Linked DNA regions of Homo sapiens: regions 2, 3 and 4 are each linked to region 1. Evidence: fine-mapped expression QTL. A gene starts in region 1. Each other region holds a variant in brackets. All regions are shown on one strand. Distances are from middle to middle.

Region 1 (7,808 bases):
CCCAGCCTCTCTCCCAGAAGGCTCCCAAAGGTCCTGCATCTGTGTTGTGAAGTGATGTGTGCCAAGCCAAAAAAATCCATAATTGCAGAGAGGTCTTGCTGTCAACACAAGGTGAAATCTTGCTCCCTGCCTCCCTTGGCTCAAGCAGGAGCCAGGCTGAGGCTTAATGGAGCCCACATGAGCGGGGCAAGGGGGACCTGTGCGCACAGTGTGACAGAGCTGTGACCCAGGCTTGCGTGCAAGGGGTCCTGTCTGGGCAGCACAAAGTGAACCATGTCCCAGTTCTCCCTGAAGCCCCTCTGGTTTCCTAGCACCCGTAGGATGACAGGCGGACCACTCCAGGTCCCGGGTGCCCCCCTCTGCAGCTTCTTACTCCATGACTCAGCCAAGCACTGCACCCCAAACCTCCAGGTGTGCCCACCTTGCCTCCCTTGCCACAGTGCCTGTGCCCTCCTTTTCACACTGCCCCAGAGCAGGTGCCGGAAGTGTCTGGGAGTGGTGATGCTGGGCTGTATTTCTGCAGATTACACCTATTTCTACAAGGGCCGGGACTACTGGAAGTTTGACAACCAGAAACTGAGCGTGGAGCCAGGCTACCCGCGCAACATCCTGCGTGACTGGATGGGCTGCAACCAGAAGGAGGTGGAGCGGCGGAAGGAGCGGCGGCTGCCCCAGGACGACGTGGACATCATGGTGACCATCAACGATGTGCCGGGCTCCGTGAACGCCGTGGCCGTGGTCATCCCCTGCATCCTGTCCCTCTGCATCCTGGTGCTGGTCTACACCATCTTCCAGTTCAAGAACAAGACAGGCCCTCAGCCTGTCACCTACTATAAGCGGCCAGTCCAGGAATGGGTGTGAGCAGCCCAGAGCCCTCTCTATCCACTTGGTCTGGCCAGCCAGGCCCTTCCTCACCAGGGTCTGAGGGGCAGCTCTGGCCAGTGCTCACCAGGGCCAGCAGGGCCCTAGGCTGGGGTCGTACAGCTGAAGTGGTGGGTGCATTGGCCTAGGCTGAGCGTGGGGCAGGGAATTATGGGGGCTGTGCCCCAGGGTGGGTGTCTGGCACCCAGCTGCCAGCCTTCTGTCCTGGGCAAACTACTCCCTACTTAAGGGAATAGGCCAGGCTCCATCCGGAGGCAGGGACCATGCCAGGAGGAGCCCCTGTGGTCACGGCATCCTGTGGTGTCCATGAGGTACCACAGCTCCACTCCTGGCTGGAACCCAGCACCCTCTGTGGGAAGCCAGCACTAGCTCTCATCCCCCATCCGGGAGATACCACCAGTCCTGGTCCCCTTTTGCCAACACCTGCTGGTCAGATGTCCCCCTACCCCCACCCCACTGTCCTCCAAGGCTACAGGACCCCTGCTTCTGACACAGTGAGCAACAAGCCTGGGTTTCCCTGCTGGCAGACGGCAGATCCCTCAGGAAACCTGCTCCACTTGTCAGGGTCTCTTCGGAGACCCAGGATTTAGGGTCACATGCTGCAGGCAGGGCTGTGGCCCAGCTGGGTCTGACAAGGACCCAGCTGTCACATCGTGAATATTTAAATGTCCTGTCACTACTGTCCCATTTTGCAAAGGCTGCTTGAGGCTTTAGGTGAACTAGAGGTGACTGTCTTGGTGATGAGGCCAGCATAGCGGCCCTCCCCCAGGCGACAAGGACCAAGGTGCTGCTAAGGCCACTCTAGCGCCCAGACACCCCAGTAGCTGAGCTCTGCTCCTATGGCTACAGAGCTGGGGCAGAAGCTGACCCCATTTCTGGAGGAAGATCCGAGTTTGTGACCGTCCTCCACTCCCCTCTATTGTCACTGTCCCCAGCTTTGCTCCAGTCTGTCACTTGCAGCCTGGAGCTCAGCCTCACCAGTTAGGTGAGGCAGAGATGGCTGCAGGGCCAACACTGGCAGAGCCTGGGAGTCCTTCGGAAGGGGACCAGGGCGTCTGAAGTGCTCAGTGCCCCCACTACTCTGAGGCCGACTCCAGCTACTCTGAGGCCGACTCAATCTCTCGGCTGGAAGCAGTGTTTTCCCAGAGCTTGGCCCTTGCTGACCTCGCTCACTGGGCCCATCTTCCCACACTGCTCTTAGAAGGACACCCCTACCGGTAGCAGCCCCAAGCTGAGGGGGCTCCCTTTTTGACCTTCACTGGCCCGCCCTTCACTGTCTCCAGCAGGAGTTCCTAGGGCTTGGCCTGCCTTGCTCCACAGTACGGCGGAGGCAGCCCTGCTTGTCACTGAGGAGCCCTAGACAAGGCCAATGGGTTCATCAATGCCCACTGGCTCTCTGCCAAAGCCAAAAAGGTGTCAGGCAGTCTCCAGCGTGCTGGCCGGGTCTCGGATGCCACCCCTGCTCACTGAGCCTGCATGGGCCTTGCCCCCGACCCTGTGGTCTCTGGGATTGGGGTCGGCTTACCCTGTAGCACAGACAGGGACTCCTGCTGCCCTGGGAGCTGTCTCAAGCAAAATCTCTTGTCCCAGAGGTGCCCATGTGGGTCCGCTGTGTCCCCTGTCATCATCCTTGTTTTTTCTCATTTTGGCCAAGGGCAGGCTCCCTGGGACAGGCAGGGAACAACTGCGGAGATATTAGTGATTCATAGGTTTGTACAGTGTTTTATACTTTGCAAAGCACTTTATTAGCTCACACCTGTCCACTCACATGAAACTCGTGTTAGGCCCTGGGAGGCCGACGGTAACTCTCACCGTGCCCTCAGATGAAGCACAGAGAGGTTGTTACTTGCCCGGGCCATCCAGTGGGCTGGCTGGGTCTTGTGTCCCCATCTGTGGACCCCTCTAGGGTCTGAGATGAGATGAGAAGTGTCTCCTGTATCCACCTCTTCCTGGCCTCCCTTCCCCCACTTCCTGGTCCCTGTCCACTCCTCAGGTTGGTGCTCTCACTTCTTGAAAGCTCTAGGCACCCCCGCCTCCCGCCAGGCTCCCCATTGGCTCCTGGCAGGCCAGCTGAGAATGAACAGGAGATGGAGGCAGGCAGCCCAGGCTGCAGAGGTGAGGGATGTGGGGCCAGGCCCAGAGGGCTCAGCCTAGAGGCTTCCAATCTCAGATTCTCCTGCCTGTGGTCATCTGTTTGTCCATCACCCCAGGACAGGGCAGACAGAGGGGCAAAGCACTGGGGGCCCCAGAGCCTAGCTTCCCCTCAGCCTGGGGGACATCACAGCATTTCAGTGTCAGTCACATTTTAAACTGATCAGCCTTTGTATAATGTTTTTTAAATCATTTCTAAATAAAACAGAAATACAGAGTGTGTCATTTCCCTGGGATGAGGGAACAAAGATCAGGTTCCAAGAGTAACCTTAGGACGCTCTGGGAAGAGAACCGGGTCCTTTGGGGTGTCTGGGAGCTGCCCACCCATCTCCTCTGCCAGACCGGCGGTCAGATAGCCTCCCTCTACAACAGGCTGGCCCTGGGGGCCCAGGGTTATTGGGGTTCCAGGAACACAGCCTGATGATGCCTCCTTACGATCCAGGATGGAGAGCAGCCCCCCCAGGAGTATGGGGAGGGTCACTGTGGCACGGGCTTCTCCATGACCTGGGACATGACCTGGGACACATAGTCAAGAGCACGGTTATCAGCAATACAGATATTAATAAAAGGCAGACGAAGTCAGGAGGTCAGCAACTTTGCGGGCTTACCAGGAGGCCTGTCCTGCCTCTGGAAGCCAGCGACAGAGAGGGATGCCCCCGACCCAGCCAGCCGGAGAAAGGGATGGGGTGGTCACGAAGGTCTGAGCTGGGTCTGGGTGTAGGCTGGGAAGCAGGCTGGGGTGTAGACTGCGAAGGCGGCCCTGCCGGGACTTCTTTCCAGTCCCCGGCGACCTCTTCGAATTCTCTGCTATCTCTGGGGAGCCTCGGGTGGGAGGGGGTGTAAGAGACGCAGGGACGTGGGGAGAGGAGACAAGGCAGGCAAGAACCACAGGGGACGGCGGACAGACGGGCGACATCCTGCGGAGGACGCCGTCAGTACCAGGAAGTGCAGGCGATGAGGAAGCGCACGTCGTCCAGCGGCCCCCACGGGCTGGGCTCGGGCTGGGGCTGGGGCTGGGGCTGGGGCTGGGGCTGGGGCGGATGCCGGGGCTGTTCCGGGCCCTCCGGCGCCGCAGGCTGGGGCTGGGGCTGGGGCTGGGTTTGCGCAGGCTCCGGGGCGCCGCGGCCGCCGCTTAGCTGAGCCCCCATGGTCTGCAAGAAGAGAAGCCCTTTAAGGTCTGGGTCGCCGGGACACCCCGCTAGGGCCCCGCCCCGGCTCTGCCCTCACCTCTCGCAGCCAGACCCGCGGGTCTCCCGGAACCCACCTCGGCGTCGGGAGGAGCTGGCGCCGTGACGCCACCACCGCGTACCGACCTCACCCTCCGTGCGTTGGAGCGGAAAGAAGGGACTCGACCCTGTGCTTCGGGGCGGGGCTCCGCGACCGTCCCCCGCCAATCCCGCCCCAGCGCCTCAAGGCCCCGCCCCGCGCAAGGGGACGGAATGCACCCCAACAGCCTCCAAGACGCCCAGGCCAGGAGGACGCTGGGAACCCGCTGCCCCGCCCCACGCCCACCCAGGAAAAGACCTGCAACCTCCATCCACCTTAGTCAAAGAATGCCCCGAAGCCAGATGCCCCAGAGCTCTCACAGGGGACTTGCCCAGCTCAGGGGAAAATCGGAACGGACTCTCTGCCTTTCAAGGCCAGAGAAGACCGGCGCAGAAGTCGGGTGAAAACTGTGAGAACTAGACCGGGCGCCGTGGCTCACGCCTGTAATCCCAACACTTTGGGAGGCCGAGGCGGTGGGTCGCTTGAGTTCAGGAGTATAAACCAGCCTGGGCAACACAGTGACTTCGTTTCTACAAAAAAATAAACGAGGCGAGAGGATCGCTTGAGCCCAACAGGTCAAGGCTACAGTGAGCCATCCTTGCGTCACAACACTCCAGCCTGGGTGACAGAGGGAGACACTGCCTCAAAAAGAAAAAAGAAAAAAGGAGAACTGTAGTGGAGAGTGTTTCTTGCCCCAGGATGAAGCCTCACATCCTGATGGTAGAGGAGAAGGGAATGGCGTGTGTGGAGGTGGTGAACTGGGTTGGGTGTGTGTTGTGTTCATCCCACCCTATCTTCCCAGAATGCTGGAACAACTGGAGAGTGCAGGGATTGTACACAGGCTGAGGGCCCCAAACATCACATTCAGAATGGCCCGGAGGGAACTGCACTTTAATGGGGTGGCACAGGACAGCAGAACCCTCAGCCAGCAGCCACAGGGCCTGCCAGCCAGCACAACAGAGCAGGTTTTTGCAGTAATGATAGATCCAGGCGATAAGCACAGGTGGAAAAGGGTTGGGTGCCCAGCCCCTCAGTCCCAGTGAGCTCTCTGCCACCTCCCTGCCAGCATCCGGTACAGATTGGGCGGAATGTGGAGAAGGTTGGCCACAGTCCAGAGCCAGGAGCCCATGGAACAACTTGGAAGGTGACTCAGGTGAGGCTGAAGAGAAAGGAAAGCGCACGGTCAGTAGCTGTTTCACAGAGCCCACCTCACTCTCAAGTGAGGTGCCTGCCTCAGCCCTCATCCCGGGACCAGCTCTGACAAGCTGCTCAAGCAGCTACTGCTCTAGTATCCTAGCCCTGAAAAACCACAAAGATGAGGATTAGCAGATGCTCAAGAAATATTTTTTGAATATGCTGGCTCTTATCTGCTCAGCAGTGTACAGATATGCTCTCACACTCGAGAAGCTACCAGAACAAACTGGTAGGCTCCCATTCTAGATGACATCTTTTCCCCATACTCTCAAAATGCAAGTTAACCCCCAACCCTGAGCAGAAGAAAGGAGAGGCCCCAGGTACCTGTCAATGAGGGAATCCCGCATGCTGGTGGCAATGGTGCTAGGCTGGGCTTCATTCAGCTTGAAGACACTCTCCACCACTGACAGCTCTGTGCTGGTTGTGTCCAGGCCACAGAAGGCACACCAGTCATTCACCACCATCCCAGCAGCAATCACCTCACTGCCTCGGTTCACAGTCCCCGCCTGCCAAGGGATGGGCTCAATGTGAGTCACGGCACCAAATTCTCTCCCTCCTCAATGAAGACTCTCCCCAAACCCTGCTCCTCCCTGACCTGCAGCCCCAGTCCCAAACTGTGGCAGGTAATGACCCAGACTCCCAAACACTAGGCAAAAGGATCTGCCTCGGGAGACGGGGTTCAGAGGACAGGAATGCTTACCACAAGGGGGACTTGAAGAAGAGAGGACAGCTCATCCTGGTCTTCAATTGAAGTCTTGGGATGCACCAGCCCTCCCTGATTGCTGAAGACACAGTAGCTTCCTACTAGCACCTGGTCGGCCACTGTCTGTCTGAAGACTTCCACCTTGAGCACATCTGCCAGAATTTCTTCTGTCTCCTGTCAATCAAAGATATTGTGTTCAGGGCTCAGAACTTACAGCCCCAGAACCAAGGTTCTCCATGCCCAGAAGCATCCAGGCCTTGGCTCCCTGAGCCCCTCATTTCTCCTCTGTACCTCATATGAAAGCCTCACCCAGAGAAAGGAGGAAGTACAGCTTAGAGCAGAGTCAAGGGCAGCTGTGAAGCCCCTAATATTCATGCATGCCCTGAACAGCTGGAGGCTGGTCTCAATATCACTTCTTTCCCCTCTCACCCACAGTCAAAAGTTCAACAGTCAATCACCTATCCTGGCCCAGGATGCAGGACTGGATGGTTCAATCTCCCCAATCATGAAGGATTCATACCCTCCCCAGCTTCTTTCTGACACTTGATAAGGCCTCTGTTATCACTATTCCAATGAGTACCTGAAACTCAAGAGCCCATATAGAAAAACCACAGGAGAGACCCCTAATTGCTGCCTGTTGGGAAAGAACAGTGGCTAACCACTGACTAGGATGGCCCTGTGACTCTTGGGTCAAGTTGGGCTGCCTCACCCTGTCCAAGTCTGGGTGGACCAAGGCCACGTAGTCATTGCAGGTGGTGACATTGCCCAAGGCTGAGAGCCGCTCCTCCACCCGCCTAATCTGCACTGTGTCTGGGAGGCTGTTGCGAATGTGTTGCAGCTCCTGGTCGGTGGTATTGTTGGGTACCAGGAGACCGTGCCTGTTCCCTGGAGAAACCCAAATTAGAGGGTGAATACACAAGATGCCTGCTGAGCCCTAGGGGCTGAGGATACCACTCAGCCCAGCCCAATCAGCTTTCCCAGGAAAGCTTTAGGCCCAGAGCCCAGCCCTCCAACCCACTGATCTGGAAAACACCCAGGGCAGGCCAGAGACCACCCAGGAATCCCAATAAATCCTGCCTACTTCACCATCACCAACTGGGAGGGAAGCTGAGCTCTTGGCATTAGCTGTATATTTTGCTACTTAAAAACTGAGCTGCCGGGCGTGTTGGCTCACGCCTGTAATCCCAGCACTTTGGGAGGCTGAGGTGGGCAGATCACAAGGTCAGGAGATCGAGATCGAGATCATCCTGGCTAACACGGTGAAACCCCGTCTCTACTAAAAATACAAAAAATTAGCCAGGCGTGGTGGCGGGCGCCTGTAGTCCCAGCTACTCGGGAGGCTGAGGCAGGAGAATGGCGTGAACCCGGGAGGCGGAGCTTGCAGTGAGCCGAGATCGCGCCACTGCACTCCAACCTGGGTGACAGAGCGAAACTCCGTCTCCAAAAAAAAAAAACAAAAAAACAAAAAAAACTGAGCTAACACTACACACATAGCAGAATGGCTAGATTATTATTTTTTAAGGCAGAGTCTCACTCTGTCACCCAGGCTGGAGCGCAGTGGTGCGATCTCAGCTCACTGCAACTTCTGCATCCTGGGTTCAGGTGATTCTCC
Region 2 (6,537 bases), 220 kb after region 1:
TACAAAAATTAGCTGTGTGTGGTGGCATTTGCCTGTAATCCCAGCTGCTTGGGAGGCTGAAGCAGGAGAATAGCTTGAGCCCAGGAGGCGGAGGTTGCAGTGAGCCGAGGTCACGCCACTGCATTCCAGCCTTGGTGATAGAGCGAGTCTCAAAAAAAAAAAAAAAAAAAAAAAGGTGTGGCACAGCAGTCAGCATAACAGACATTGCCCCTGCTCTCAAGGAACTTACATTCCTGTGGCAGAAATGGATGACAAATGAGCAGACACAAAGTAAATGAGATTATTACAGTTTGTGATAAGTGCTGTAAAGGAAATAGAATGATACAACTGAGAGTGAGTCAAAGGAGGTTCACTTTGCACTTAGTGGTCAGGGAAGGCCTCACTGAGAAAGTAACATCTGAGCTGAGACTTGAAGGTTAGAAAGAAACCAGCTCCGTGATACAACATAGGTGAACCTTGAAAACATCAGGTTAAGTGGAAGAGCCATATATTTTATATGATATGCTTCCATTTATATGAAACACCAAGAATAGGCAACTCTATAGAGGCAGAAAACAGATTTATGGTGGGGAATGGGGTGGGGAATGGGGATTGACTGTGAATGGGCACGGGGTTTATTTTGGGATTGATGGAAATGTTCTAAGATTGATTGCGATGATAGTTGCACAACTCTGTGAATATCCTAAAACCCACTACACAGTATACGTTAAATGAGTGAATTGTATGGTATATGAGTTATATCTCAAGCCATTTGAAAAAAAAAATGCCTGCCATGTGAAGAACACTTTAGGCAGAGGAAACACCTGTCGCAAGGGCCCTGGGACACAGAAGAGGGCTTGGGAAGTTCAAGGACAAAAAGGAGGCAGTGTGGCTCCAGCTTGATAAACTCAGGGGCGAGTGGAGCGGTAGCCAGAAGCCCTGTGTCAGCCATTGTAGGAGCTTGGATTTTGTTCTAAGAGCAATGGGAAACTGTTGGGTGGTATGTATGTATGTATTTGTTTGAGACTGAGTCTCGCTCTGTCACCCAGGCTAGAGTGCGGTGGCACTATCTCAGCTCACTGCAACCTTCGCCTCCCAGGTTCAAGCAATTCTTGTGCCTCAGCCTCCCAAGTAGCTGGGATTACAGGTGCCCGCCACCATGCTTGGCTAATTTTTGTATTTTTAGTGGAGAAAGGGTTTCACCATGTTGGCCAGGGTCGTCTCAAACTTCTGACCTCAAGTGATCCACCCACCTTGGTTTCCCTAAGTGTTGGGATGATAGGCGTGAGCCACCGCGCCTGGGCAGTTGGATGGTATTTAAAAAGCAGGGGTGGGATATGATTTATTTATATATACGTATACATATGTATATACATATATGTATATGTATTCTCTACTCTCCTGAGTAGAGAATAGTGTGTGTGTGTTTTTAGGGGATCGTGGCATCAAGTGGAAGTAGGGATATGGTTAGGAGACTGTTTCCATGGTCTAGGTGAGAGACTATTACCAATTCATGGACTCTGACCAAGAAACCTGGGTGAGCCAGTGCACTTTGTGAGGGAGGAGAGGGACTAGGAAGTGAGAAGGTGAGGTGGAAACAATGTGGATTGCTGGCTCCTGCCTCAGCTTTTGCCACCCCACCAAAAAAACCAGTATTTCTATGACACAGATTTCCTCTACTCAATGATTTCTTATCCCTCTTCAGGAGACCACTGGGATACTACAGACCCAGCTCCAGGAGGCTCAACGGGAGCTGAAGGAGGCAGCCCGGCAGCACAGAGATGACCTTGCTGCCCTCCAAGAAGAGAGCAGCTCCCTGCTGCAGGATAAGATGGACCTGCAGAAGCAGGTCCCCTCCTCCTCCCCACCAAGTCCCATGGTCCTTCCCCAACACAGCCAGGCTTTCCCACTTCCTCTTGCAGGACAGGGAGAACCTTGGCCCTGCTGCCTGGTTTGGGAGGGTAGATGGGTGGGCCACAGTACTGAGTGGAAAATTAGAGGGTGCTCAGAGTTGAGCATGTGCCTGGCAGAGCCCTGGGATAGTAATCTCTTTCTCTGTAATGGTCACAGAGTTTTTGTTTTCCCTGGCTGTCTCAGTTTCAATTGTTCTTTCCGTCCTTGCCAAAAATCTAATATTTTTACATACTAGGTTGCTTCTCCTCAGAATCCTATATCAAATGATGTTCTGACTTTTCATTTTTAAAAAAGCAATCACAATACATGTTTTGCCTTTGGGAGTAGTTATAGTCAGCCTTTTTTTCCTTCTTTTTGGTGGGGGAGACAGGATTTCACTATGTCGCCCGGGCTGAAGTGCAGATCATAACTCACTGCAGTCTTGACTTCCCAAGCTCAAGCAATTCTCCCACCTCAGCCCCCTGAGTAGCTGGGACTACAGATGTGTGCCATCACACTGGCTAATTTTTAAATTTTTATAGAGACAGGGTCTCACTATGTTGCCCAGACTGATCTCGAACTCCTGGTCTCAAGCAGTCTGCTCGCCTTGGCCTCCCAAAGTGTTGAGATTACAGGTGTGAGCCACCGCACCCAGCCCAGCCAAGATTTTTATTTGTGCCTGCCTCTATGCAGCATATGTGAGGCTGGGAGGCAGATGACCAGGCCGAATTGTATTGAGGAAGGGGGTGGTTAAGAACAGTGTGTAGGAATTGGTAGAATCGCCAGAGCATTGGAAATGGCCACTGACTATGGTAAACCTCGAAGGACCCTGAAGCCCTAGGTGAGGAGCATCTTCCCACCGGCCCCCTGCCCTGCCATCTTGGTCTTCATGCCCTTAATTTTCCAGGTGGAGGACTTGAAGTCTCAGCTGGTGGCCCAGGATGACTCCCAGAGGCTGGTGGAGCAGGAGGTTCAGGAGAAGCTGAGAGAGACCCAGGAGTATAACCGAATTCAGAAGGAGCTGGAGAGAGAGAAAGCCAGGTAGGCTAGATAGGCCATGGAGGTGGCTTTTGTCTATCTGGCTGCCATGGTCACTGTGATATTGACAGTTGTTTGCTCAGGCCACCTTGCCTTTCATGTCTGCAACTCTGGGATGTACATGTAGCCATGTGGAGAGGACATGGTTCCTGTCTTCAAAGCTTGAACTTCATTTATTTAGTAAATATTTCGTGAACGCCTGTTATGCACCAGGCACCATGCTTGGGGATACAGTGATAAACAAGACTGTATGGTCCCTGCCCCAGTAGAATTTATAGTTTTGTGGGGAAGACATTAATCAAATAATAACTCAAATTATTACGTTATGACACATGGAGGAAACAGGGTGAGAGAGAGAAGAGACTTTAGAACCATTGTTAGGGAAGGCCTTTCTCAGGAAGTTGCATTTAAACTGAGCACTCAGCATGAAGTGGAGCTACCCATGTAAAAGGGTGAGGGGGAGTTCTATTCCGTAAGAGGAGAAATAATATGCAAAGGCCGTGAGGCAGATAAAAGTTTACAGTGTTAACTGAAAGAGTGGTTGGAGCCTGATTGGATTGTAATTGGAGCCTGGTGAATGAGGAGAGTGGCATGAGCTGGGCAGGTCCACAGCATTCAAGATTTGGTAGGCCACAGCAAGGAGTTCGTAGTTTGAGTTTCATAGGAAACCTCTGGAGAAT[T/C]TTAAGCAGGGAAATTGATACAATCCAACTTATGATGTATTTGAAGGGATTGTAATGCCATGAGACATCAGGAGTGAAAGAAGACCATTCAGAGTGAAGAGCAGCTTGTATTCTTAGTGCTGTGGGAATTTGAGAAGGGGATGGGCTGGGTGCTGTGTCCCACGACTGTAATCCCAGCACTTTGGGAGGCTGAGGTGGGCAGATCACTTGAGGTCAGGAATTCAAGACCAGCCTGGCCAACATGTCTACTAAAAATACAAAAAAAAATTAGCTGGGCATGGTGGTGGGTGCCTGTAATGCCAGCTACTTGGAAGGCTGAGGCAGGAGAATTGCTTGAACCAGGAGGTGGAGGTTGCAGTGAGCTGAGATCACACCACTGCACTCCAGCCTCGGTGACAGAACGAGACTCCATCTCAAAAAAAGCAAAAAACAACAAAAAAAAGACACAGTTTGAGAAGGGACACATTATTTTGGTGGTGAATCTAGAGGCAGGAAGACAAGTTAGGCTGGTACAGTTGTCCTGATGAGAGATCCTAAAGCTAAACCAAGGTAGGGTAGTGGGGAAGAGGAGGAGAGAAGAGAAGAGGTTTAAAGGATGTTAAGGGAGTTAGAATCAATTGTATATAATTATAGATTGGATGTAGGTAGGTTGAAGGGAGAACTCTGGAGTAGTCAAGGTTCTACGTTAGGACACTGTGTGGATGGAAGTGCCATTCACTGAGCTAGGGAACATAGTAGGAGATGATTGGGTGGACAGGGGAGGAGAGGAAAGGGATGGGGAAGATTTGGACATGTTGAACGTGAGGTACTAATATAAGGTATGTGTGAAATTTGCCAGAGAAGAATAAGGTTGATAGCTAGGCATGGTGGCGCATGCCTGCAATCCCAGCTACTCTGGAGGCTGAGGCACGAGAATCATTTGAACCCGGGAGGCAGAGGCTGCAGTGAGCCGAGATCGTGCCACTGTACCCCAGCCTGGGTAACAGAGCAAGACTCTGTCTCAATAAAAAAAAAACACAAAAAAACCTGTGAGGTTGAAATGGGGCATCATCTGCAGGAAGTACCTAGGAGCACTTATTATAGTAAGTGCTCAATAAATGATAGCTTTTATTGTTACATCATAATCATTATCATTACTATTTCTATTTTGATTATTAATGCTATGTTTAGAATACTCAGATGAGAAGGTAATTTTTCATTCCCTAAGAGAATGGCCCAGCACTCTGACCCCTCTCTTTTTAGCCTGACTCTCTCACTGATGGAAAAGGAACAGAGACTCCTTGTTTTACAAGAAGCTGACTCTATTCGACAACAAGAGCTGAGTGCCCTGCGCCAGGACATGCAGGAGGCCCAGGGAGAACAGAAAGAGCTCAGTGCTCAGGTACTTCCCACTCTGGTTATGAGCTCTGCATCCCTGGCAGAAGCCTGATTCTGAAGCGGTGGATTGATTGCTCTGAGTCCTCTCATGGAGAGGACCCATCTATTTTTCCTGATTACAGGATAGGCTGGTGCCTCAACACCCCTACAGGAGGGGGAAGCCAGGACTAGACAAGGCGGGGGCTTGGGAATCTGACCCAGAGATGGACATGGCTCCTGTGGGAAACCTGACAGCCCACAGCAAAGTGCACACGGGTGTAGCCCATGCAGGCCTGGTTCCAGCACACCGGCTTCAAAGTATGCTGGGTCTGGTTGGCAAGATGTAGCAGGGAGAATGAGCAACCAGAAATACTCCAGATCAGGCAGGCAGCAGCAAGACTTCCAGGGACTCAGTCTGCCCCCATCAGAACCCCAGATATTGTATACAGAGAAAAGATGGAACTAGGAGGGAAGGAATGGGGTGTAAGAGCCAGATGGTGGCTTGCAGGGGTTAAGGGCACACAGGTTTGGCTGTTCAATGGTCTTGAGTTTGAATGTAAGCTTTCTAATTGTGTGAACGTCAGCTTCTTCATCCATAAAACAAGGGTGAACAATTCTTGTTCCTAATTCCTATAACCATTATAGGAATATATAAAGTGTCAGGAACACAATAAGCATTCAATACATGGTAGCTATGTTATTGTGACTGGTCTTACTAGGCGCAGCGTCGAGGTTTCAGGGCAGAGTTCTGGTCATAGCAAGGAGCCAGCATATCTGCCCAGGAAGCCAGGGCTGAAGCCCATTAGCATAGCAGCCTGGGCCCATGTGTTCAGTAGTCGGCAGGCAGCCAGGTGTTAGATCTAGGGTAACACTCATTTCAGAGCCCCTCTACCTGCCTGAGAGCTGAGCTGAAATCCTCCCAGCCCTGATCAGAGTTTGTACAAGGATTGAGTGGGGTCTGGCCTGGGAAGGCCTGAGGAGAGGGTATCCGCTTCCTGCTTATATTATGTAAAATTCTTCCTTGACAGATGGAATTACTAAGGCAAGAGGTGAAGGAAAAGGAGGCTGACTTTCTGGCCCAGGAAGCACAGCTGCTGGAGGAGCTGGAGGCGTCTCATATCACGGAGCAGCAGCTGCGAGCCTCCTTGTGGGCCCAGGAAGCCAAGGCAGCCCAACTACAGCTGCGACTGCGCAGCACAGAGAGCCAGCTAGAAGCGCTGGCCGCAGAGCAGCAGCCCGGGAACCAGGCCCAGGCCCAGGCCCAGCTGGCCAGCCTCTACTCTGCCCTGCAGCAGGCCCTGGGGTCTGTTTGTGAGAGCAGGCCTGAGCTGAGTGGTGGGGGAGACTCTGCTCCTTCCGTCTGGGGCCTTGAGCCAGGTGAGACAGCCTCCCCAGAACTAGGTCCTTTGGGCCAAAGCCAGGCCTGGCTCCCAGGGGAAAGGGAGAGGAATGCTATTTGTTAGACCATATTGCTTCAGGGTTAAGATTACATACTTGGGAATTAATTCTGAGTTTAAGCCCCAGCTCTACCATTTGCTAGCTATGTGTCCTTGGGCAAGTCACCTGTCCTCTCTGAGCTTGATTTTCCTCA
Region 3 (7,808 bases), 21 kb before region 1:
AAGGGCCAGGCATGGGCAGGCTCAGGTGGGGCTGGGGCAAGGGCCAGGCATGGGCAGGCTCGGGTGGGTGCTGGCTGGCACTTCTCAAGGCTCTGCTGTCATCTCAGGTGGATCCCTTTGGTGCAGAGGCAAGATCTAAGACAGAGATCCTCAAGAGTTGAACTAAGGGCTCCCCTGCTGACAAGCACTCCCTACAGAACGGGACTTTTTTTTTTTTTTTTTTTTTTTCAGAAATCTGACAAGAGAAGGAAAGTTAGGGTTGAACTAAGGGCTCTTCTGCTGATAAGCTGTCCCTTCAGAACGGGATTTTTTTTTTCCAGAAATCTGACAAGAGAAGGAAACTTAAGAATCTAGGTTAGAAACTGAATAGACTCTTGGGTCTCTTGAAGGGGTAGAGTGGATCAAGAGAAAGAAGCACTGGGTTCTAACCCAACTCTGAGTAACTTCTATCACTAGACTTCTCTGGGCTTCAGTTTCCTTACGTGTGGAGTAGGTAGAATAATCCATGCCCCAGAGGGTCACAGGGCAGGGAACCCACAGGTAGTAACGTTGTTTTGTGAAGAACCAATGCAATATGAACACAGCGACGCTAAACAGCTAAACCTATAATGGATTAAATCAGATACCGGCCAGCTTCTAGGCAGACAAGCCAAAGATTGGTACCAAAGATTTTTTAAAGAGACTTTTCACTTAAACTCCTCTCTATTATTTGAATATTTTTATAACTTTTATAAATGAACATATTTCGTATTAGGGAAAAAAACTTAAAATTCAGAAAATGCTATCTACCAATTTCCTTTGGGTTTTTTTTTTTTTTTTTTGAGACAGAGTCTCACTCTTGTTACCCAGGCTGGAGTGCAGTGGTGCAATCTTGGCTCACTGCAACCTCTGCCTCCGGGTTCAAGCAATTATCCTGCTTCAGCCTCCCGAGTAGCTGGGATTACAGACTCACACCACCACGCCTGGCTAATTTTTGTACTTTTAGTAGAGACAGGGTTTCACCATGTTGGTCAGGCTGGTCTCGAACTCCTGACCTCATGTGGTCCGCCAGCCTCGGCCTCCCAAAGTGCTGGGATTACAGGCGTGAACCGCTGCGCCCAGCCCCAATTTACTTTTCTCAACAAACTAGAGTGGAATCCTTTATTCGACACAGCTTTGCTGGAGATCAAATGGAAAACACTGAGTAAAGCAAAGCCATCTGACTGAGGCAGGGTGGGGATCCAGAGCTCTGTTACTCAGCCTCTTCTTCAATCCCTGAGGCAGCTAAGCAGAATTCTAGGGTTCAAAATCAGATCACTGAGCCACATTGTCTCAGGTATCTATTTTAGCTCTGCTAGTCTCTGACTCTCTGATCTTGCCTAATGATCCTCCCCTCTCTCACCAGCATTCACAACTATACCCCAAAAGTGGGTGAGCTAGACACGCGGAAAGCTATTCGCCAGGCTTTCGATGTGTGGCAGAAGGTGACCCCACTGACCTTTGAAGAGGTGCCATACCATGAGATCAAAAGTGACCGGAAGGAGGCAGACATCATGATCTTTTTTGCTTCTGGTTTCCATGGCGACAGCTCCCCATTTGATGGAGAAGGGGGATTCCTGGCCCATGCCTACTTCCCTGGCCCAGGGATTGGAGGAGACACCCACTTTGACTCCGATGAGCCATGGACGCTAGGAAATGCCAACCATGACGGTAAGGCCATGAGGGGACAGGGGTCAGTCTTGGGCTGCTCAGTTGTTGGGAAAGAACTTGGAGGACATCCTAGATGAGTTTCCTGCTTTCTAGAGCCTCTTGTCCAAGAACTAAGACCGTAAGAGGGTGGGAACTGTGATTTCTGATAATATTCAACGTTCAATCCACCAGGGCCAGGGCCATGGAGATGAGTCAGATCACTTAGAAGATAGTCCGGTTGGCAGGAGAAAAGTAAGGTTAGGCCAGTAAGAAGATAAAGTAATGGACCAGAGGCTGAAGAAAAAGTTTAAAAGGGGCCAGGCACAATGGCTCACGCCTGTAATCCCAGTACTTTGGGAGGCCAAGGCAGGTGGATCACCTGAGGTCAGGAGTTCAAGACCAGCCTGGCCAACATGGTGAAACCCTGTCTCCACTAAAAATACAAAAATTATCTGGGCGTGGTGGCGGGTGCCTGTAATCCCAGCTACTCAGGAGGCTGAGGCATGAGAATCGCTTGAACCCAGAAGGCAGAGGTTGCAGTGAGCCGAGATCGCACCATTGTACTCCAGCCCAGGCGACAAGAGTGAAACTCCATCTCAAAAAAAAAAAAAGTTAAAAGGCATTAAAGCTGAAAGAGGGGTCTGAAAGTAGTAGGCTCTGGCCTGAATGATGAGGGCTCCAAAAGCCATCTTATGAATGACACGACTGGCTCTCTCCTTTGTCACCCTCACAGGTGAGTAGCAGGCCCTGAAATTATTCTGGCATCCTTGGATAATTTACCCTGCACCACTATGGTTCAATGAATATTTATGGAGGCAGAGTCAATACCGTGCAGCAATAGTAATGATACCCTGCAGGTTGCCAAAAAATTCATCATCAATATTTACTCACAAGGCACATGCTTAGTATGTAGGCAAGTGTACATTATTACACCCATTTTTAAGATGAAGAGTTGGGGCTCAACTGGCATAGCTGAAAGGTGACAATGCAGGTATCAAGCCCTGGTTCAACTACTGGCTATGTGATACCCTCGGTCTCCTCGTCTGCAAAGTGAGGGGCTGGATTAGGTGATCGCTAAGGGCCCTTCCAACTCTAATGAACATGATACAAAGTCTTGCAAAGACCAGGGGGAGCTGAATGTTTGAAAAAAATGGCATGATCTCTGTCCCCTGGCAGTCCAGAGTCAGTCTAGCAGGGGAGTTAGGTGTGCACGTAAGTAACCCTGTCATAGACAGACTCTACCCAAGGCTGTAGCAGAGGCACAAAGAAATATGTAGGAGTTTGGAGGAAAGAGGGACAGAGGAGTGTGGCTTTTGGATTATAAGAGATGATAATTAGTGGGTATGCTGGTGTTCTGAGGCCCGTGCCAAGTGCTTGCCACCCATTATGTGTGGAAACTATTATATCTATTAATACATTATAATGCATAATTAAATTTATGTATTAAGCAATATATAATGTTAAATTATTATTATAGGTAAATATTGCTATCTTCATTTTACAGATAGGTAAACTGAGATATAGAGAAACATTAAGTCACCTACCTAAGGTCCCACAGTTGGTGAATGGTGAAATAAGGCTTTGAATCTGGGCATTATGGCCCTGGAGCCCATGCTGTCAGCCATCATGCTAAGCTTCCATGGTTCTCAAACTGTAGGGCACAGCAGAATCACCTGGGAACCATTTTTAAGAATTCAGATTCCAGGCCAGGCACGGTGGATCACACCTGTAATCCCAGCACTTTGGGAGGCCGAGGCAGGTGGATCACCTGAGGTCGGGAGTTCAAGACCAGCCTGGCCAACATGGTGAAACCCATCTCTACGAAAAACACAAAAATTAGCCAGGCATGTTGGCAGGTGCCTGTAATCCTAGCTACTCTGGAGGCTGAGGCAGGAGAATCCCTTGAACCCGGGAGGCGGAGGTTACAGTGAGCCGAGATCATGCCACTGCACTCCAGCCTGGGCAACAGAGATTCCGTCTCAAAAAAAAAAAAAAAAAAAAAAAAAAGACTGCAGATTCCAGGACCCTAACCTCTTGTCATTCTGATTCTCTGGGTCCGGGGTAGGGCCTGGGAATCTGCAAGTGGTCTAATACATTCCTGGGGCCTTCTGATGCAGGTGTTCCATCACCATGAGAAACGCTATCTTAATACCTAGAGTTTTCCTACCTGGCCTGATCATAAGAACCAATGGGGGTTCTTGTTATAAACGGGGATTCCCAGGCCCTTCCCACAGAAATCCTGACTCTTGAGCTCAAACAAGCTTGGGAAACACCGAGCATCCTTTTTTCCTGCCCTGCGGCTGCTCCAGGCTGAGAGCAGACTCTCAAAGCTGGTTTGGTGTCTATAGTTGGGGCCATGTTTGGTGTCTATAGTTGGGGATCACCTCCTTGAGAACACTTT[A/C]TATCATCGCATGGATTAGGGATTGGCAGCTCTGGGGTTATCTGTCAAAGGCTGGACCAGGAGGTGGTTTGGCCAAGGCTCAGCCTAGGCAAAGTCATGAACCTGTTAAATTGTTCTTTGTCCTCTTCTTTCTTCAGATTTTTGTCCTCTTTCCTATTGAACTCCGTTTCCTTTGCCCTGGTATCTCTCCCGTATGTCCTGCATGTATTCCTGGCTGAGTACCTGTTCTTTATCTCATTCTTATTTTTGGATCGGTGTCAACGAATGGCTGTCTGTGCTAACAGATAAGATGTGAGGAGAAGAGAACTAATATTTTTGAGGCCCTGTTATGTGCCAGGCACTGTTAGCTGATAGGGTTTTAGTTATATTCCTGATAGAGGCAAATGAATGTCCAAAGAGTTGTCCAGAGGCAACGGGAAGACACTCCCACTCCTCTGCCCTCCCCTTCTGCCCAGCACTGGGGGTGTGCACTTCCCACACCTGCTCCTTGCTTTTGCAGAACTTGTTGGACCCAGCCCCCAAATCCCAAGAGCCGGTGGTATGTGTGGGAAGGACCGGGGACCTGTGGATGGGCACCATCCCAGCACCTCTCCCATCTGTCCAACCCTAACCTTCATGAAAGACTGCCAATTCTGATAGAAATTCCAAGATTGCTAATGTTTTCTTTGGATAAGAATCAGGACTTTGCTCTGCTCTGGAAAACCAAGCAGGAACTGTCCAGATGCAGCTCAGGACCACAGCAATCGACTCCTGAACTGGAATGCAGTGAAGGCAGGTTTTGGGTGAGAGGCAAGGAACCAAAATTTATTGAGCATCCATATATTATCTCGTTTAATTTCCACATAGACTCAGCAAAGGGGTGGAGTTTCCTGGGAACTTTTTGAACTTATTAGCTTACTTCTTTTTTCTAAACTCTCATTATGGAAAATTTCAAACTCACAAAAGTAGGAAGAATGCTTCTATGATCTCCCAGATACCCACCACCTGCCTCAGCAATTATCAACGTTGTGGCATTCCTATTTATCTACCTTTTTTTGGCTGATGTATTTTAAAGAAAATCTCAGGCATTCTAACATTTCACCTTTAAATACTTTAGTATATACCTCTAACAGATAAAGGCTAATTTTTAACATAAGCACACAATCATTATCAAGCCCAACAAAATTAACAATAATTTTTTAAAATCTAATACCCAGTTCGAGTTCACTTTCCCAAAGTACCTTGGAAATGTCTTTTACAGTTGTTTGCTTGAATCAGGATCCAAACAAGATCCACACACACATGGCTGACATGTCTCTTAAAGCCCTTTTTATTTAAAACACCCCCGTCCTACACACACGTTTCCCTCCATATATTTGTTGAAGAAACTGGGTCAGGTGTCCCGAGTATAATCATTTGGCGTGACTAGAATCAAGTTTACTTTTAATACGTCTCTCTTGCCCATAATTCCTGAATGTTGTTCATTAGATTTACAGGCTGACTAGATTCAAGTTCAATTTTTTTGGCAAGAATACTTCCTAGGTGGTGCTGGTACTTCCTATTCACCATATTAGCAAATACATATGATGCAGACTGTCCCACTTTTAGTGATGTTGAGGTCGAGCATTTGCTTCAGGTTGTGTCAGCCTGACCCAACCATTATACAATTCACCTGGAGAACTTAAAAAAAAAAAACAACAAAAAAGATTGCCTACGTCCCAAACCAAACCTCCTGAATCAGAATATCTTCCCCACCTCCTCCATGTGTTTAAAAGGCTCCCCGGGCCAGGTGCGATGGGAGCACTGGAGTAATCCCAGCACTTTGGGAGGCCGAGGGGGGGCAGATCACCTGAGGTCAGGAGTTCGAGACCAGCCTGGCCAACATGGCAAAACCCCGTCTCTACTAAAAATACAAAAATTAGCCGGGTGTGGTGGCACATGCCTGTAATCCCAGCTACTCGGGAGGCTGAGGCAGGAGAATGGCTTGAACCCGGGAGGCGGAGGTTCAAGTGAGCCGAGATTGCACCACTACACTCCAACCTGGGTGACAGAGTGAGATCCTGTCTCAAAAATAAAAAAGAAAGAAAATACTTTTTAAAAAAATAGGAAATTCACCCCTTTGGAAAGTGGCAGAGCCAGGTGTGACCCCAGGACTCCGCATTTTTAAGTCACCACAGGTGGTTCTGCTGCAGGTGGTCCGAGTATTTCCCTTGGTAAAATACGGTGCTTTTGGCGCTGTTCCATTCCGGGGGCTGTCACCTGGTTCTTCAACACAAAGCTTGTCCTCAAGGAACCCACAGTCCTGGGGCAGCGAGCATGTGCACTAGTGGCAATCACGTGGGGAGGAAGCGGTCAGTGCCATAAAGGCAGTTCAGGGAAACTGCTGGGAGGGCACAGCAGAAGGAGCACTCACTGCCAGCTGGGAAGTCATGGAAGGCTTCCTGGAAGACAGGCATGGAGCTGAACTTTGAAGGAATCAGGTTATTCCAGGGGAAGGGGCAGCACTGGCAGAAGAACAGAGGCAAAGGGAAATGCTATCACCTTTCGTGGGGCTGGGGGAGTTAATGAGATGGGAACGACCAAATATGGAGATCCTAAAAGAAAGAAATGAGGCAGAGACAAGGTCCACTTGAGTAGCCGAGTAGACTGCTGGGGACTTGCTCGGAGGCCCAGGGACTTACAGGAACACACCCTATCAGGGGTGCTGGTGCTCACACACAGCTCAACAGGACCCTGCTAATGAAGGGTAATACTTCTGTACCAGGAGCTGGTATCAGCGCATTACACACCCTGCCCCATGAATCTTCACCCACATCCCTATGACGAAGGTGCCATTGTTCCTTCTATCTTCCAGAGGAAGAATTTAAAATGTCACACTGCTAGGACATGGCAGAGCTGGGATTCAAAACCAGGCAGTCTGGCTCCCAGAGACTGCATTCCTGACCACTCTGCTTCCCTGCCGCTCACCCTCTTGAAGAGTGAAGACCCTAGCAGCCTCCTGCCCATGGAGCATGGGGTCCTCATAGCAGGCCTCTCCTCCTCATACCTCTGCCTTCACCTCACAAGCTCAGGGAGTCCTCCTGCCCCTGCCCTGCTCCCTCTGTCTCCCCCTCAGGGCTCTCTTGGGTTTCTGTGCAGCAGGATACTGGCTCCCTCGCTCTTCCCTTCCTTTTGGTTCCTGGACCCAAACCACAGGCCTCTTTCCTTTAAGGGGTCACTCCTGTTCTCTGCAGACCCAGAACAGGGGTTAAAAGAGCAAGAGACAAGGCTGCGGACAAAGGTTTTGAGTCTCCCACAGTGCTCAGAGCCGTGTTCCCTGGTTCCCAGCTGAGCTCCCTGTGGACAGCCCCTGGGGAAGAGCCTGCTCAGGAGACAGAGGCCCTGAACAGCTTGTCCCAGGTCATAGAATAGCCCAGGAGCACAGCCAGGACTGGACCCCAGGAAGCAGAGCTGCCTTCCGCTGGCTCTACCAGTTTGTTTGGGATGGAGCTCAGCGATGAGCTCACCCTTCCCTGCTGCCAGAGGGGCCAGGACCTGAGTAAGGAGCTGGGGGCGGCCTGGCCCTCTCATGCCAGCAGAAGGCCAGCCCCAGGCTTTTGGCCAACCTTGCACTGATCTTGCCCATCCCCCTTCCTTTCCGTTGCTCAAAGGTGGCTTCACAGAAGACACTGGCGGTGTCAGTAGTGTGGGAGGCATGTACTGCCCGTGGCCTGGGTCTGCCCCATGGGGTTCTTCTCTCTTCCAGAGACCTAAGCCAGGA
Region 4 (7,808 bases), 65 kb before region 1:
TGATCCAAGGGAAGGAGACTTAACCCTGACTTCCAGAGAAGGAAATAGTCTCAGAAAGGTTAAGTCATTTATCTGAAGTTGCCCTTTTAATACTGAGTACTGGACTCTCTCAGTATCCGCGTACTCTGCTGCCCCCTACCGTGAACATAGCAATAGGTTTTAAATCACAAAAACACACAGCAGAACACTACACAACACTGGAAAGACTACGACACTATAAATAGTGCTTACATTTGTTCATTTAGCAAATATTCAGCTGGACGTGGTGGCTCACGCCTGTAATCCCAGCACTTTGGGAGGCCGAGGCAGGTGGATCACTTGAGGCCAGGAGTTCAAGACCAGCCTGGCCAACATGGTGAAACCCCACCTCTAAAAATACTAAAATTAGCCGGGCATGGTGGCACGCACCTGTAATACCAGCTACTCGGGAGGCTGAGGCAGGAGAATTGCTTGAATCCAGGAGGCGGAGGCTGTAGTGAGCCGAGATCACACCACTGCACTCCAGCCTGGGTGATACAGCAAGACTCCATCCCCAAAAAATAAATAAACAAATATTAATTGAGAGCCTACTATATGCCAGAAATAAGCAGGTATTGTCCTTGTGTTCATGGAGCTTATGGTGTAGAGGGGGAGACAGAATTACACAAAATAATTACTTAATTACAGTTTGAATAAATACTATGAAGTACAAGGTGCTATATGAGGGTATAGAATAAGGGTATGTAGCCTGGTCTGGAGGCTTAGGGAAATCTTACATGAAGTAGAATTCATAGGAATAAATTATTGGTTGGCTATGGGGGAGGTTAAAGAGACATCAAGAATGCCTTCCAGGTCTCTGGCATGAACAACTGGGCAGATAGAGCACTGTTACTAAGCAGGGGAAGCCTAGAGGAGGAAGACATTATGAATGGAAAGAATATGAACTTGGCTTTGGCTTTTTGCAGTTCGGGAATCCCACGAGACATTAAGGTATAGATGTGGAATAAGCAATCAGATTCAGGAGTTTGGGAGCAAGGTCTATGCTAGAAATAGAAAGTTGGGAGTTGTTGGGATACAGATTATATTTGAAACTGTGGTCATGGATGACATTTCTTAGAAAATAATAGAAAGAGTAGAAGGCTTATAACTTCCCTGAGAAACTCCAGAATTTAAAAGGTCAACTGGAAGAGATGGAGCTAGCAAAAACTTAGGACAAGGGGCCAAGGAGGGGAAAATCAGGAATGTGCAATGATGCCAAAGTCAGGGGAAGTGTATTTCAAAAAGAAGACTGGTCAACCATGGTGGTAATTACAAAGAAATCAAGTGCAATGACTTTCTTGGTCTACGATGATTTTTTTGGTCTGCCTAGTGAAACAGATTCAGTTTCAGAGGACTAGAGGTGGAGAAGACTAGGCCACTACCTCTTAGAAAACCTCCTAAAGGCCACCATAGCCTATGGTCTTGAACCAGTGGTCTTCATAGTCTTTTGCTCACATACCACTTAAAATAATTTTGATAAATAATGTGAGCTGGGCACAGCGGCTCAAGCCTGTAATCCAAATGTTTTGGGAGGCTGAGTCTGGAGGATCACTGGACCCCAGGAGTTTGAGACCAACCTGGGCAACATAGAGAAACTCCATCTCTACAAAAATTAAAAAATTAGCCAGGTGTGGTGGTGTGTGTCTGTAGTCCTAGCTATTTGGGAGGCTGAGGTGGGAGAATTGCTTGAGCCCAGGAGTTCAAGGCTGCAGTGAGCTATAATCATGCCACTATACTTCTACCTGGGCAACAGAGCAAGACCCTATCTCTAAGAAAATAAATAAATAAAATTTTTAAAAAACATTAGGCCAAGTGCAGTGACTCATACCTGTAATATCAACACTTTGGGAGGCCAAGATGGGAGAACTGTTTGAGCTTAGGAATTGAGGACCAGCCTGGGCAATATAGTATGACCTCATCTCTATGAAAAATTTTTAAAAATTAGGTGGGTGTGGTGGCACACGCCTGTAGTCTCAGCTACTTGGGAGGCTGAGGCGGGAGGATCACTTGAACTCAGGAGATTGAGGCTGCAGTAAGCTACGGTTGCGCCACTGCACTCCAGCCTGGGCAACAGAGCGAGACCCTGTCTCAAAACAAACAAACAAAAATATAGACATATTTTTAAAAGATAATAGAAGGCTATTTTCTGAATCTTGTATTTTTAACTGTCCCCAGTTCTGAACTTTTTTTTAATTGCCCCGTGCAATGTATCATTCAGGGTGGGTCAGATATATGCCTTTCTTTCTTTTCTTTTTTCCATTTTTTTTTTTTTCTCTGAGATGGAGTCTCACTCTTGCCCAGGCTAGAGAGCAATGGTGTGATCTCGGCTCACTGCAACCTCCACCTCCAGGGTTCAAGCGATTCTCCTGCCTCAGCCTCCCCAGTAGCTGCGATTACTGGCACGTGCCACTGTGCCTGACTAATTTTTGTATTTTTAGTAGAGACAGGGTTTCACCATGTTGGCCAGGCTGGTCTTGAAGTCCTGACCTCAGGTGATCCACTCACCTCTGCCTCCCAAAGTGCTGGGATTACAGGCGTGAGCCACCATGCCTGGCCTTTCTTATGAAGACTAGCAGAACTACAATTATGAAGAAAAAGTCGGCTTGGAGCCTCAACCCCAGGAACTTTCTCAGGTGGAGTACATCTGGAAGTTGAGGATCTGGAAATGAATTTCCTTAAATATATCCATGCATGAGTACCGCTTACCAAGCCTTCATTTACTTTACGGCTATTGCATACCCCATTTGAAAACCAGTGTTGCAAAGGACTGGGGGCAATCTGAAACTACTGGGTTCCTGGAACCTGGCACTGATTGATGGGGCCAGTGGGCCCTAATGAGATTGCACCTCCATTTTAAAAGCGTGAAAGGTATAAGGAGATTCAGAGATAGGTGTAAATGGCTTGCGGGAGCCTCCAAAATTTTCAGGTCCAGGTACCTCCCACCCCTTCAAGGGACTGTCTGATACTATTCTATGGCTCCTGGAATGAAGAACCAGTCATCAGGACCTGCTGGCCTCTATTAAATTAAGAGTCCAGTCAGATTTAACAACCTGAAGATGAGGTGTAACTGTGAAGCAATATATGGCTGATTTTTTAACACACCCATCCAAATACATCCACTCCAGCTGATTCATTCTCTCAACTCCCATGTGCTAGGTAATGTATGAGGTGCCAGAGTTACCCAAAAAACAAACAAAGCACAATCCATAGGCCAAGTCCTGCAGAAACTCTAGGAGAGAAACTTTTAAAGAAATAATTATAAAAACACTGTGATCGGCTGGGCGTGGTGGCTCACGCCTGTAATATCAGCACTTTGGAAGGCTGAGGCAGGAGGATCACCCGAGATCAGGAGTTTGAGACCAGCCTGGCCAACATGGTGAAACACCATCTCTACTAAAAATATAAAAAAATTAGCTGGGTGTGGTGGCTCACAACTGTAATCCCAGCTACTTGGGAGACTGAGAGCAGGAGAATTGCTTGAACCTAGGAGGCAGAGGTTGTAGTGAGCCAAGATCATGCCACTGCACTCCAGCCTGGGTTACAAGAGTGAAACTCTGTCTCAAGAAAAAAAAAAACAAACACTGTGATAAAGAGTTAATAAAACTATGTGCAAGAGCTAGGGGAGTACTGAAGAAAGAGTGATTTGAGTAAGAACTTTGTAAGACTTTGAGTAAGAACTTTTTAAGACTTTGGGAAAACTTCCCAAAGGAGGTCACATTAGAGTTATTTATTGGCAGGCGTGTAGTACATCATAGAGAAAAAGAGATGGCAGTGGAAGGATGTTCCAGGCAGAGGATGCAGCATGTCACATGGGCAG[C/A]CAGTGTCCAAGTGACACTCAAGGGGCAAGACCTGCTTCATGGACTTGTGACCTCTGTAGTCACACAGGGCCCCCCTCTTAGAAGGGCCCTCACGCTTGTTTTAATGTTCTGCTGTCATCATTTTGAAATTCTTATTTTTTTTTTAACAAGGAGACTTGCATTTTCATTTTTGCACTGGGCCCTGCAAATTACGTAGCAGGTCCTGCAAGAGGGCAAGATGAAGGCAGGGAGACCTGCTGGGAAGTTATTACTGCGGTCCAAGTAAGAGATAATGAAGGGGCTAAATCAAGGTCTTGTCGTAACAGTAATACACAGCCACACCATTTTCAACTTCTTCCCAGTGTATTCCTCAGTTTAGATGTAGCAATTTCCCCAACTGGAAAGTACTTAGGTTGATTTTGGTGTTTTGTAATTACAAAGAATGAGGCAATTGAATAATTTGCTACAAATAATTTTGTGTTTGCACCTATGCAAGGATATCTATCTAGGATAAATTCTCAGAATTAGAATTGATGGGTCAAAGGTATGCTCATTTTCAAGGTTGATAGGCATTGCCAGTTGGTGACCTGAAGAGAGTAAACCAATTTGTATCTCTTCCAACAGTATGGAGGAGTATCTGTTTTATCATGCCCTCTTTAACACTCTGTAGTATCCAACCTTTTGGTATTTGCAGTCTGATAATGTTAAGAAAGCAGTGGCTGATTGTCTTAATTTGCCTTTCTTTAATTACAAACATGGTTGGTCATTTAAAAAATTATTATAGGAGTCTGTTCAGGCCAGGCACAGTGGCTCACGCCCATAATCCCAGCACTTTGGGAGGCCGAGGCAGATGGATCACTTGAGGCCAAGAGTTCCAGATCAGCCTGGCCAACACGGCAAAACCGCGTCTCTACAAAAAACACAAAAAAATTAGTCAGGTATGGTGGCATGTGCCTGTAGTCCCAGCTACTTGGGAGGCTGAGACATGAGAATCGCTTGAACCAAGGAAGCAGAGGTTGCAGTGAGTTAAGATCGTGCCACTGCACTCCATCCTGGGTAACGGAGCGAGACTGTCTCAAAAAAAAAAAAGAGTCCATTTATATTTCTGTTTGCATGAAGCCCATTTAGTCCTTCGCCATTATTGAATTGGGTCATAGGTCTTTTTCTTATTGGTTTATAACAGCTGTTTTACGTTAAAAAAATAATAATAAATATTTTACCTAGTTTATAGTTTGTTGCTTTATTTCTGCTTTTTTTTTGGCCATGCAGATGAAGGCCTGAATTTTTGAAACCTAAGTGAACTGTTACTGCTTTCACTGTATACCAGTATTTTGCAATATAAGCCCTCTTTTCAGGGAGTGGCCTTTAGAGACTATTACACTTATTTTTTTAGAAGCTCAGCTTGTTCATTTGGAGAACATACAATATTAAAGGGAAAAAATGCTCAGCTTGTACTTATTTTTTGAAGAGATAATATATCCACATGATTAAAAAGTCAAAAGATACAAAAAGGTATACAGTGAGAAAAATCTCCTTCCAGCCAGGCATGGTGGCTCCCACCTGTAATCCCAGCACTTTTGGGAGGCCAAGGCAGGCGGATCACATGAGGCCAGGAGTTCGAGACCAGCCTGCCCAACATGGTGAAACACTGTCTCTACTAAAAATATAAAAAATAGCTGGGCTTTGTGGTGTTTGCCTGTAGTTCTAGCTACTTCGGAGGCTGAGGCAAGAGAATTGCTCCAACCCAGGAGGCAGAGGTTTCGGTGAGCCGAGACTGTGCCACTGCACTCCAGCCTGGGTAACAGAGCGTGACTCCATCTCAAAAAAATAAAATAAAATAATTAAAAAAAATTAAAAAATAAAAATAAAAATTGCCTTCCCACCCTGTCCTCAAACCACTTAAGCTTCCCTCCAGGAAGTAAGCACTATTATCAGTTCCTTGGGTATCTGTCCCTATTTTATGTGTAAATGAGCAAGTGCATGCACACACATGTATTCTTTTTTCCGATTATTACACAAATAGTAGCCTACAATATCCAGGATTCTGCACCTTTGCCTTTTTTTTACCACTTAACATTACATTTTGGAAATAATGTCCTAATTATTCATAAATTCGTAAGTACTTCCTCATTTTAAAAAATGGCTGCATTGGGCCGGGCGCGGTGGCTCACGCCTGTAATCCCAGCACTTTGGGAGTCCAAGGCGGGTGGATCACAAGGTCAGGAGATCGAGACCATCCTGGCTATCACGGTGAAACCCTGCCTCTACTAAAAAAATACAAAAAAATTAGCTAGGCGTGGTGGTGGGCGCCTGTAATCCCAGCTACTCGGGAGGCTGAGGCAGGAGAATTGCTTGAACCCAGGAGGTGGAGGTTGCAGTGAGCCGAGATCGCGCCACTGCACTCCAGCCTGGGCGACAGAGCGAAACTCCATCTCAAAAAAAAAAAAAAAAAATTACAAAAGGCTGCATAGTGTCCCATTGTATGCATTGGTTTGAATATGCTTTTAAGGGAGAAACCTGAGTAAGAAATACTCTCAAGTCATTTGGGGCTGGACATTGAGACTGAGTCGGGGGATTGGACTGGGACCTTCTCTAGATCCTGAACAATCAGACCTTTTCCTTCCTCCAGGCCTTTACCTCCCATTTTCTTTTTCTTTTTTTTTTTTTTTTTGAGATGGAGTCTCACTCTGTAGCCCAGGCTGAAGTGCAGTGGCACCATCTCAGCTCACTGCAACCTCTGTCTCCTGGGTTCAAGAGATTCTCCTGCCTCGGCCTCCTGAGTAGCTGGGATTACAGGCACGCGCCACCAAGCCAGGCTAATTTTTTTGTGTTTTTAGTAGAAACGGGGTTTCACCCATGTTGGTCAGGCTGGTCTCAAACTCCTGACCTCAAGTGATCCACCCGCCTCAGCCTCCCAAAGGTGCTGGGATTACGGGCGTGAGCCACAGCGCCCGGCCTTTTACCCTCCATTTTCTGCCAATTAAAACTTCACACAGTCTTCCATTGCTTGTAACTTTTGAACACGTGTGTGGTAATGTTCTGTGTATATTGCATATAAAACTATTAGCTTTTAAAATATTACCAGTTTATATAGACTCATCTCAAATGCTACTTCCTTTTGGAAACCTTCCTTGATCTCCCTGATATCCCCAGCCAGAGTGACCTCACTCCCCTCTGAAATCCTATAGAATGGTGTAATGTTTTGTGGTTATTTGTCACGCCTTTTATGTGCACAAGTCTTATCTTTTTTTTTTTTTTAACCTGAAGACGGCCTCACTTGCCCCAGTACCTTCCACAGAGTGGCTTCTGAGTAATGTTTACAGAATTTTTGAGGTAATTAATGAATGAACAAAGGCACCAAGGGTTAAGGACATGAATTTAGTGTCAGACACTTGGGTTCTACTCCTGGTTTTGCTGTTTTTTAGGTGTGTCGTGGGGTAGGTCACTTCTCTCACCCTTTCCTTAGAATCCACTTCACAGGACAGTGGTGAGGATTAAGTGATTTGATGTAGGTAAATTGCTTTTCATTGACTGTTAGCTGCTGAAATAGGAATTCAGAGGAAGGAGGAGAGAGGTCAAGGAGACTTCCTAAGCTGGACTGTGCTCTCCAGCCACCCTCTCATTTATATTTCCTTTCAGATCTCTACTAAGAATGTCACTCTGGCCGGGCGCAGTGGCTCACTCCTGTAATCCCAGCACTTTGGGAGGCCGAGGCAGGAGGATCACTTGAGGTTGGGAGTTCGAGACCAGCATGACCAACATGGAAAAACCCCGTCTCTACTAAAAATACAAAATTAGCCAGGCGTGGTGGTGCATGTCTGTAATCCCAGCTACTCGGGAGGCTGAGGCAGGAGAATCACTTGAACCCGGGAGGCAGGGGTTGCGGTGAGCCGAGATCACACCATTGCACTCCAGCCTGGGCTACAAGAGCGAAACTCTGTCTCAAATAAATAAATAAATAAAACAAAATAAAAAATAAAGAATGTCACTCTT

Evidence for each region. PIP is the estimated chance that this variant, and not a neighbour inherited with it, causes the effect.
Region 2: its variant is fine-mapped to the expression of MMP24OS in whole blood (TOPMed, PIP above 0.99).
Region 3: its variant is fine-mapped to the expression of MMP24OS in whole blood (INTERVAL, PIP 0.95).
Region 4: its variant is fine-mapped to the expression of MMP24OS in lung (TOPMed, PIP above 0.99).

What each region holds. Positions count from the first base shown.
Region 1 is chr20:35,273,749-35,281,556 of GRCh38, forward strand. MMP24OS (MMP24 opposite strand) reads right to left here and starts at 4,374. Exons shown (of 2, transcript NM_001355003.2): 1 at 4,261-4,374; 2 at 2,604-4,184. The coding sequence starts at 4,181. The coding sequence ends at 3,966. MMP24-AS1-EDEM2 (MMP24-AS1-EDEM2 readthrough) reads right to left here and starts at 4,374. Exons shown (of 15, transcript NM_001355008.2): 1 at 4,298-4,374. MMP24 (matrix metallopeptidase 24) reads left to right here. Exons shown (of 9, transcript NM_006690.4): 9 at 524-3,250. The coding sequence ends at 861. EIF6 (eukaryotic translation initiation factor 6) reads right to left here. Exons shown (of 7, transcript NM_002212.4): 4 at 6,906-7,081; 5 at 6,194-6,370; 6 at 5,818-5,999; 7 at 5,170-5,458. The coding sequence ends at 5,449. RefSeq lists enhancers at 1-20, 1,702-2,309, 2,310-2,917, 3,504-3,603, 3,724-3,893 and silencers at 4,024-4,243, 4,334-4,553.
Region 2 is chr20:35,491,745-35,498,281 of GRCh38, forward strand. It overlaps CEP250 (centrosomal protein 250), which reads left to right. Exons shown (of 35, transcript NM_007186.6): 23 at 1,685-1,828; 24 at 2,780-2,913; 25 at 4,833-4,971; 26 at 5,975-6,323. Among named protein-coding and RNA genes, the nearest start is that of CEP250-AS1, 4.0 kb to the left of the region's middle. The variant T/C (reference allele first, on the strand shown) is at 3,591.
Region 3 is chr20:35,253,066-35,260,873 of GRCh38, forward strand. All of the region lies in intron 2 of MMP24-AS1-EDEM2 (MMP24-AS1-EDEM2 readthrough), which reads right to left. MMP24 (matrix metallopeptidase 24) reads left to right here. Exons shown (of 9, transcript NM_006690.4): 4 at 1,385-1,689. Among named protein-coding and RNA genes, the nearest start is that of MMP24-AS1-EDEM2, 21 kb to the right of the region's middle. The variant A/C (reference allele first, on the strand shown) is at 4,070.
Region 4 is chr20:35,208,439-35,216,246 of GRCh38, forward strand. The region is part of intron 4 of MMP24-AS1-EDEM2 (MMP24-AS1-EDEM2 readthrough); the gene reads right to left. It also overlaps a transcript of PROCR not described here. Among named protein-coding and RNA genes, the nearest start is that of MMP24, 14 kb to the right of the region's middle. RefSeq lists an enhancer at 7,622-7,808. The variant C/A (reference allele first, on the strand shown) is at 3,836.